2 separate regions of the Homo sapiens genome follow, and region 1 is linked to region 2. The links come from fine-mapping of genetic effects on gene expression. Tissue or cell type: prefrontal cortex. Region 2 holds a variant in brackets; the other region holds the start of a gene. All regions are shown on one strand. Distances are from middle to middle.

Region 1 (5,204 bases), 48 kb before region 2:
TACTTTCACCTTGACCTTTAAGGCACTGCTGGCGTCAGGCTATTTAGTATGGACGCTTCTGTTGACATTTCTGACTGCCCCTTTTGCGAAGTGAAAAAAAACAAACAAACAAACAAAAAAAAAAACTGGAGGTCAAGAGGAAGGAAGGATGGGTTAAGGAGTCAGCATATACAAGTCAGATAATGTGAAAAGTATTTTATAAGAGCTGCTATCGGGATGTTGGTTATTACCAAGGAAAAATGTGTCATCCTTATCCATCTATAACTACTGAACAGTAACTAAGGAAAGAAATTCACTCATCCTTTCTGCTTTTGCAAACCTCCTGTTTGCAGGAGCTTATCAGGTAATGTTGTCTGTCTGGACTGTGAATCAGATGCACAGTTCACCCACAAACATAAATACCTATGAAAAAGAAATATAATTTCTTTTAGACTCACCCAGAACTTGCAAGCTTTAAGTACATGGTCTGTGAAGTCAGGAGAGGAACTATACTATTGGCTGAAATCTAATCTTTAACTTAATTGGCCAGGAAGACAAATAGCAGGATTAAAACACACGAATAATAGTAATAATACCTATTACTTGTTTAGAGCTGGGCACTGGGCTAAGTGATTTATGTTTTATTTTATTTAAAACTCAGACAAGCCCATAAAGTAGAAACAGCTCTCCCTATGATGAGGATGAGAAAACGAGGCTTCGAGAAATTACTGTAAAGAAATTCCCCAAGGTCAAACAGCTTATAGGAAACAGAACTCAGACTAAGACAAGTTTATTGAACCCTATTTTTCTATAATTTTAACCCATCCTTTATACATACAATTGCATAGTTCTGCAAATATGCCTAAAATTGCAAAATGTAACTGATTAAAGTCTTCAGCAGAAATTTTATAATAGAAAATTTTAATATTTCTCTGTGAATTAGTGACTTTATGTGTTTCTATTCCCCACTATTTCTACTTCTCTTTTTAAAGACATAGAAATATATGTATGTATAAACTTTTTAAAAGCTATGCACACACACACACAAACAACCTGTTTGTGATTGTGTATATGAGCTGTGAATAATCTTCTGATGCCCCCTCCCCCCCACCCTTAGGGTCTCTTTCACTCACATTGTCTATATATTTTCCAATTTTTATCTTTCTCTTTCCTAACTGATCTCTCTTTTATAGGCCATAATATGAAGCTAAATTATATTCTTATTTATCGTGGTCATCTAAAGGAGTGTTTGCTTTCTGTTCCAGGTTTTTTTAATGAGACTAAATTAACTTTTATATTTTGTGGGTTTGCAGGCTTAGTCTGCTTTTATAGTATATTATTTGTGTCCACATCTATCACTTTTATTGTAAAGTCTTTACTGGGCAGGGAAAGCGCCTTTCCTATCTTTGTATGTTCCACAAGACTTAACACAGAGCTTGTGATAAACATGAATAAACGAAATCAAGTAATTAAGGACTCAAAAGCCTGGGCCTGGCAGTGTTTCCATAGCAATTGGTAGCAGGAAGCGACGAGGCTGAGAATCACAGACCATCTTCCATAAACTTGATTCTGTCTCCAATTTTGGTCGCAAGTTGCTTGTAGGCCCACCAGACACAGCTGAGGGGTGGGAGGGGGCATGCGGAGGGGCGGACACTGAGCTGAAACCTATTTTACCTCAGCGAGTTTGGATCCAGGAGCCTTTCCAACCTATCGTTCGGGAAGGCGTTGTGGGAAAAGTGGGCGGAGGTGCCAATCGATCCTCCAGTCTCGGCTCTATCCTCCCCCAGCCCGGTTCCCGGTCATCTCAGGGACCGTCTGGTAGCTGATCCCGGAACGCAGCTGGCCAACGGATAAGTGCGGGGCACCCGCCACCCGCGCGGACCCAGGAGCACCTCCCCTACCGCATCCCCCTCCTCCCCACCCCCAGGTTCCCTCGGCTCGCGGCCCTCCGCGTCCCGGGCTCCCGCCCCAGAACCTGTGGGCAGATGTTTCCTCCACGCAGTACCCTCCCGGGGCTCTGCCTCCAGGCTCGCGTCCCAGCACCCTAGGCAGAGGTTTCCCCCACTCTGTCCTCTCCCGGGGCTCTACCTCCAAGCTCCCGTCCCTGCCCCTGGGCACAGCTTTCCCCTACTCTGCCCTCTCCAGGAGCGCTATCTCCAGGCTCCCACCCCAACCCCCCGGGCAGAGGTTTCCCCCATGGCCCCCCTTCCGGGGCTCTACCCCAGGTTCCGGTCCCTCACTCCCGAACACTCCGGGTGCCCTCACCCAGCCAACCCTTGACGCGCTTCCACATACCACGTGATCCACACAGCTCACTTTGATCTCTCGGGGTGACCAAGCTTAAGTTTCCTTATCTGAAAAGTAGGGACACTAGTCTCCATCTCGTTTACTCGGGATGGGACAAGACGACCAAAAAAGAGAGGATTCCTCATCAGGTTTATTACTCGTTGCCATTCTTGCAATGATTACCGCCCCCGTTGCTGTGGTTGGGGGAGGCGAGCAAAGGGCAGCGGCTGCGAGCGCCCGCCCCCGCCCCACCCTCCCAGCCCCGGACAGCGCAGGCTGCGGCTTTTCGTCCTCCACTGAGTCCTGCCGGTGGCCCGAGCCCGGTGGCCTCCCGGCGACCCTCGGCGCGAGGCGACATGGCAAGCGGCCACAGCCTCCTGCTGGAGAACGCGCAGCAAGTGGTGCTGGTGTGCGCCCGCGGCGAGCGCTTCCTGGCGCGGGATGCGCTGCGCAGCCTGGCGGTGCTGGAAGGCGCCAGCCTGGTGGTGGGCAAGTAAGTGGCCGGGCGCGCAGGGTGGGGACCGCCACGGGCGGAGCTGGCCGCTCTTCCTCTCACTGTGCACTCTGGAGGGAAACAACGCCGTGAAAGCGTCCCTGCACAGAGATACACGGGCAAGCCAGCCTTTGGGGTACCTGTTGCTAACACGCTCTGCTGCTTGGGGTTGTCATTCCGTCCAAAGAGCTCAGAGAGGAACACCCCATTGGAACGCATCAGGGTCCTGCCTCTGCTGGTAAAATATCACTGTCCAACCATCAGAAGGGGTTGAGGTCCTCCCCAGTGCTTCTTAAAGGGAGGCCAGAAGACCACCTTTGTCAGGGTGGCCTGTGGTTATTTTATTCTTACGGCAGATTTCTGATTCCACCTGCGTCCCCCACTCCCTATCCCTAGAATTTTAGAATCAGCATCACTGGGGCTGGAGTTCTGAGACCTGAATTTTTCAAAAGTACCTTTCACATCCTCGTGATCTCGTACACTAAAGCTTTAGAACCACGGAGAACATTTAGACGATAATGGCCCTGAGTGATAATAAATCAAGATTTGACCATCAGAAAACAAGATATTTCTCTTACTCATCTGAGCTTCCTGCCAGATATGAATAAAAGAACAAAGTTTGAGGGCGACCTGGGGTAGCAAGGGAAGTTGGATGAGAATTTGAATCCAAAGCGTGCCATGGGACCACAATTGCACACGATCAATGAGTCTCACAAACTGACCACGGCTTATCTGAGGCAGTTTAGGGTTGTGCAAGAGCCCAGCTTTTAAGGGACTGTGGGTTGGTTTAATTTTATTTATTTATTTATTTATTTATTTATTTATTTATTTATTTATTTTTGAGACGCATGAGCCACTGCGCCCAGCCTATTTTTTGTTTTTTTGAGACAGGGTCTAGCTCTGTTGCCCAGGTTGGAGTGCAGTGGCATGATCTTGGCTCCACCTCCCAGGCTCAACTGCGATCTCCACCTCCCAGGCTCAAGCCATCCTCCCACCTCAGCTTGACAAGCAGCTGGGACTACAGGTGCACGCCACCACGCCAGGCTAATTTTTGTATTTTTTGTAGAGACAATGTCTCACTGTGTTGCCCAGGCTGGTCTTGAACTCCTGGGCTCAAGCCATCCACCTGGTTTGGCCTCCCAGTGCTGAGATTACAGGCGTGAACCACCACGCCCAGCTTGACTGGTTTATTTTTAATTAAGGGATGAAAACATTCCCAATTTACTATGAAAATATTATTTAAAATTTTGCTTAGAAAGTTGAAAAATATGTACCTGGGTTGGGACTGGAGTATCTTATAAAAATTATATCAATGCGACCAGGCACAGTGACTCACGCCTGCAATCCCAGCACTTTGGGAAGCTGAGGCAGGTGGATCACCTGAGGTTGGGAGCTCGAGATCAGCCTGGCCAACATGATGAAACCCCATCTCTACTAAAAATACAAACATTAGCCGGGCATGGCGGCGCACGTCTGTAATCCCAGCTACTCGGGAGGCTGAGGCAGGAGAATCGCTTGAACCCGGGAGGCGGAGGTTGCAGTGAGCTGAGATCTCGCCACTGCACTCCAGCCTGGGTGACAGAGCGAGACTCTGTCTCAAAAATAAATAAATAAATACATAAATAAAATGATACTAATGCACCAACATGAAGTCCTGGGTTCCAAGACATGTTCTATGTTCACATCAAAACCACAAAAAGTAGGGAAAGGAAAAGGAGGGAGCTGACTTGTGGTCTGGAAGATGGGGCTTTTTCATTTGAGTCTGCTACATTGTTCTCACAGTTTGTTGGATTTATTACAATGAAATAAATTTACAAGAATATTGAGAACTTTGCCATTCAAATATGATTAGCTCGGTACAGGATGGTGTTGTTTTTATTTTCACTTACTATCATCACTGTCTTATATATTAGGTTGGTGCAAAAATCAAGTATAGAATTGGAATAATTATCTGGTTATTTGAGATGCTTTGAAATATATCTCCCACCTCATTATCTGAATGTTTTAAGGTAAAAGTGTTTTCAGGGTGAATTATTTAGGTGATTGTCTTAAATTTTCACATCACTTCCCTTATGCAGAACCTGTGTGTTCAAGGACAACTTAATCCTGCTCTTCTTTTGGTAGACAAGAAGAACACAGGCTGTGAGTGTGAGTGTGTATAGGGAGAGGGGTACTGATTAAAAGCACAGAGAAGTGGAAGAAAGTTCCATTTCAAAGCCCAGAATTGGATGGATTTTAACAGTGTGTGTTTTTTTTTTTCCCAACAAGTATATACATACCATGGTGTGTCCTGATTAGAATGAATCTCAGTAAGATCAACTAATAGTTAATCCCCTATATGCTATAGATATATAAAATGAGTCCTGGAAAAGAATATGGTTTGAGGGACACCAGAAACTCCCCCTTCCTAAAAATAAATATCTCAGTGATTGTCTGCCATAGGGTG
Region 2 (5,000 bases):
TTCATGTTCTCTGGTCTATTCTCTAGTTCTGTTCTTTAGTCATGAAAGCAGACTTATCTTTCAATTAATTTTTGTACTGAAATCAGGGGCTCCATTGTCTATAGAATCAACCCTAAATTTTGGTTTCTACGTCCTTCGTGTTCAGTTTCTACCTTAGCAGTTCACCTTTTTTACCACTGCCTCCTGACATGCAGGCATCTGACACACATACATGCATCTGTGTTGTGCTCAGGCTGGACTCCTCCCAGTTCACGCTCCCTTGCCTCCAGAGCTTGACCTAAAAAGTCCTCTAACCTCATTAGTGCTTCATTTAAATACTGGCAAAACCTCAGAGCAGGGTTTTTGTGGCACATGTGTGAGCACCAATGAAGAGGGGATTATAAAATTCCCTCTACTAGATGGAGACAGAATCCCGAGGGGGCGATGGGCAGAACAATCTTCCCTTGAAAGAAAAGAAGTAGAGAGTCATTAAGTTAAGGTCTCTCTAGGAAAGAAGGAAGGGGAAGTTAAGGTAAGAGAAGGACAGAGCTGGTCCCATTTACTACGTCAATTTCACAGATTCAAGTATCAGCTAGAGGCTGGATTCTGTTCTGGGTGTTGGGGTCGGTCTAGGAGTAGGCAAAATGAAGACAGGCAAGCTCAGGGCAATCTGAGTAATAGTACATTCAGTGCTTGAGGATGTGGGAAGTGGGTGGGGTGCAGTGGAAAACAATCATTTGCTAGGAGAGCATACAGGAGGGTCACAAGGAACTCGAGAGGTAGGAAGTGGAGCAGCGGAGACGGAAGCTTCTTAGAGGGCTTTTCTATTTTTCTTTTTATTTTTTAGACACCTGTCTCTGTAACCCAGGCTAGAGCGAGCACAGTGGTGCAATCCTAGCTCACTGCAGCCTTGAACTCCTGGGCTCAAGTGATCCTCAGCCTCCTGAGTAGCTGGGACTACAGGCACATGCTACTGTGCCAGGATAATTTTTTAATTATTTTATGTAGAGGCGGAGCCTCGCTTTCTTGCCCAGGCTGGTCTTGAACTTCTGGCTTCAAAAGATCCCTAGAAGATGTTTCAGAAGCAGAAATAGGAGAGAGAAGAACGTATTTGTACCAGACCCTCTGCCCAGAACATTCCTTCTCCAAGCAACCTCCAGTTTCTGCAATGCAGAACCACACATAGAAGGGATTAGGGGCTAATGTGACAAACAAGACCCTTGAAAGCCACTTTAAGTTTAGCCTTTATCCTGAGGACAATGGGAAGCATTACAAGTTTTCACCAGAACATGCTTGAATTTGCTGTTTAGAAAGGTCAGGGTGATTGCTGTATGAGGGTGGTCGGAGGAAAACGCTGTCCATAGTGAAATAATCAAAGACAAGCCTGCACGGAAGACAGATGATCTAGAAGCTGCATCCCCAAAAGGATTATCTATTTCCTTAGCTGTTTCCTCTTCTGGGGCCCTCTACCCCTTTCACTTACTATCAGGGAAGCTCCCAGCAGTTCATCAGGGATGATACATTAAATGATGCTTTATGCTGCTGTAATGAAATTCAGACACAGATGAAGAAAACACCAAAGCTTTATCAAAAACAGGCTTTTTTGATTAGCCACTAGGGTAAGAGCTTAGGGAAAAATGAAACCTGCTTTCCAGAAGCCATATAGTAAGTGCTATGAGCCATACCACTGCACCTGTGAGACCAGCTCGTAATTAAAATTGTGAGAGTGTGTGACCTCCCTGCTAGGCACTGGAAATGTTGTAGGTGCAGGATAAATAGTTGGGATTAACAGTAGCAGTTATGCCTTTTCACCAAGGTGATGACCAAACCCAGAAGGCTGACAGCCGAGTATAGAAGCTAACAACAGTCTTGCCTAGTCTGACTTCTAAGCTTTCGCTGTCTCATCTGTAAAGTAAGGATAGTAGGAGCTCCCTCACTGGGCTGTTGTAAGGACTAGGTGATACGAAGCATGCAAGCACAGTTGGTGTCCAACCTGGGGCAATTGCTGCAGATAGAAGCTGCTACGAGTCTTACGTATTTAGCATCAGCCCAGCCACTCTTCGGAGACCACATCTTCCCTTCTCCAACTAGCCCAAGAGCAAGATGAGAGAGTGGGGCAAGGTCTCCACTGGCACCAACGGTTCCTTTCTCTGGGACATAGGGCAGGCAGGAGGCTGGGAGAGAAGTAGGCAGCAATTAGTTCAAGAGTACTGCATTCTGACTCTCCTTGCTTTGCCAGTGAGTGCCCCCACTGCCCCCGCAAACACCCTGCCTCCAATATCTATCACTTTATGGCATAGATACCTGGGGAAAGACAATTCTTCAAACCCAGCTAATATGTAAGGGACCTGGATGAATTGTTATAGAAAGAAAAAGAGGAGTGGGGGTGGAGAGGAAGAAGAGAGAAAGGTAAAGAGGAGACAGGGAGGAAAGGAGGGCTGGAGGGAAAGTCAGCAAGAAGGAAAGAAGGGCCAGGCGCAGTGGCTCAAGCCTGTAATCCCAGCACTTTGGGAGGCCGAGGCGGGCATATCA[C/G]TTGAGCCCAGGAGTTCAAGACCAGCCTGGGCAACACGGTGAAACCCTGTCTCTGCAAAACATACAAAAATTAGCCAAGTATGGTGGTGCATGCCTGTAGTCCCAACTACTGGGAAGGCTGAGATGGGAGAATCACTTGAACCCGTGAGGTGGAGGTTGCAGTGAGCCGAGATTGTGCCACTGCACTCCAGCCTGGGTGACAAAGCAGGATCCTGTCTCCTAAATAAATAAGAAGAAGGAAGGAGGACACTTCTGGATGCAAAGCCCTCAAAATCTGTGTGCTCTAATTCAACCTAGTACTTCCACTTGTAGAAATTTTAGCAATATATCTTGAAGAAGTGATCAGGAACTAGCTGTTTTTTTTTGTTTTTGTTTTTGTTTTACAGTTCATTGTTTATTATAGGAAAAATAGTTAGAAATTATCTAAATATGAAATTAAAGGACATTCATTTGACCAAGTTTAGCCATTCACAGCTATTGGAAAATGTTTGGAAACATTGGAAAAGTAATATAAAATGTTCCAGAAGGAGGTGGTGCACCAAAGCATTAACAAGGTTTCCCAGGGGAAGAGAAGTCATAGGCAACTGAGTCTTTTCATTTTGCCAGTCACCCAGTCTACACTCCACTGCCCCTTATCAATGAACACGTGCCATTTTCTAAGAAATTCCCAAAAAGTTACCAAAAAAGAGGCTTCATTTTTCTGAAATAAAATCAGATTCCTGACAGCAGCATTTTTTCCAACTGTTAAATAATGTCAGTCGGGTATGGCAGTGCCATCCACAGACCAACTTCTGGCTGATAGTTCACGCTGGGGAATTCTCAGAGGTGCCTTAGACTCCCCCATAAAGTACAGGTGGGTTTAAGGTTGGAGTGCTACTATCTGGGATTTTAGGGCTATATAGTATGGCAGACCAAGGTAGGAGTAAAAATAGGTGTTGGAATCACTACTAGTCTGTTCAGCACAGCCCTGTATATACAATAGACTGCTCATTGAAATTGCTCTCCACTCATTGGCAGATCCTATTCACGTGCCACTTGCGTCCATAACATGGAAACTCAAGAATGTGTTTTGCTGTTTGTGACTGCCTCAGCACTGCTTCTCCTCCCTCTCCTTCCCCTCAAAGAGTTCTGAGTCTCCACTGACCTAGAAGGCTTGTCCTTACCTGTGAGAAGGGACAATACCTCCAATCACTGCAAATCTGGTTTCCACATTAGAATTTTCCTATCCAAGAAGAAAGCTCCAGAGTTGAGTTCCCTCATATCCTGCCACTACATGGCTTCTTGATTACAAGGGAGTCATTAACCTCTTTGCATTTCTGTTCTACCCTTGCAAGAAGTTGGATTTTAGTGTGCAAGTCTGGCCATCACCTGGGGGACATTACGATTTCAGATTCCCAGGCACCAACCAGAACTACTGAATTGGCCTTTGGGATGGACATTGATATCATGCAATTTTTCTAACCATATTCATGTACCACTTAATCCAAGTTTCTTCTAGGCAGGCTTGAATGTAAGGGCAGACTTAAGAGTCCTGTTCTAGTCTTGAAGATGACAAATGCTAGGGAAAGGGTCTTGCAGAATAAGTTAAAGTTCATAGGAGTAAGCATCTCTGATCGACTTTCTCCTCTTCCCCCATCTAACTATCCTACTTTTTGCCAACGGCATTTCCCACTCATTTCAATTATTTCATGTCTTCTCAGGTGATTCCTCAGCATCTGGCCAATCAATTCTACCCTGTGGTACATGTCCAGCCTCCACAGAGGTTCCGTCTAGGGAGCCATTGCATTACCATTAAACATTTCTATGACTTGTTTGAGGGTCTCCAGGGAAATGCCACTGTATCCTTTGGCTAAGACATTGATCCTTAAAGCCAAGAGCATCCGACACCTCTCAGGACTTAGTGGTTTCCCAACACCTGCAAAACAGAATTGATGTTTTCTCCAAGAAAAGCAAACTCCTTTTTGTCTCCTGACAATTGCCCTCCCTCCCTCCAATCTTTCCCATATGTAGCCCAGCCTGCTATTACCTTCTCCTCTCGGCTCAGGTAGTTGGACTACTCTCCCTCCTGCCTGTCTGACTTGTCTGAGCCCCATCTTCCTGACAAAGGTTAAGACCCCAGTTTTGCCTTCTCAATTCCCCTTTTTGGGAAGCTTCAGTGAACCCCTGACCTCCCACTCACCTTTAGAATAGCATCCAGAGTCCTTAGCACAACTTCTTTACCATCTGATGGGTGCTGATTGGTGACAGTCTTTCCCATCTCACTATGCCCATCCTAACTCATTCTTTGAGTTCCAGGCTTTATTTCCTTCCCTGAATGCAACAGTGTCTCCATGGCATGGGACATGTGTTCTCATACCAACCCCATCCCTCCACCTGGCCCATTTCTTTTTCTGAGGCTCAGCTGATTCTTTCTGCATCCCTTCTCACCTCGGCACCTAGTTCTTGAAATGCTGTTTTGAGAAACTAGCTTTTTGTGACTATAACTGGAT

Evidence for each region. PIP is the estimated chance that this variant, and not a neighbour inherited with it, causes the effect.
Region 1: it holds the start of AMDHD1, and the variant in region 2 is fine-mapped to the expression of AMDHD1 in prefrontal cortex (CommonMind, PIP 0.92).

What each region holds. Positions count from the first base shown.
Region 1 is chr12:95,940,778-95,945,981 of GRCh38, forward strand. It overlaps AMDHD1 (amidohydrolase domain containing 1), which reads left to right and starts at 2,554. Exons shown (of 9, transcript NM_152435.3): 1 at 2,554-2,758. The coding sequence starts at 2,622. It overlaps CCDC38 (coiled-coil domain containing 38), which reads right to left and starts at 1,837. Exons shown (of 16, transcript NM_182496.3): 1 at 1,654-1,837.
Region 2 is chr12:95,988,380-95,993,379 of GRCh38, forward strand. It overlaps HAL (histidine ammonia-lyase), which reads right to left. Exons shown (of 21, transcript NM_002108.4): 9 at 4,301-4,426; 10 at 2,014-2,153. Among named protein-coding and RNA genes, the nearest start is that of HAL, 5.5 kb to the right of the region's middle. The variant C/G (reference allele first, on the strand shown) is at 2,512.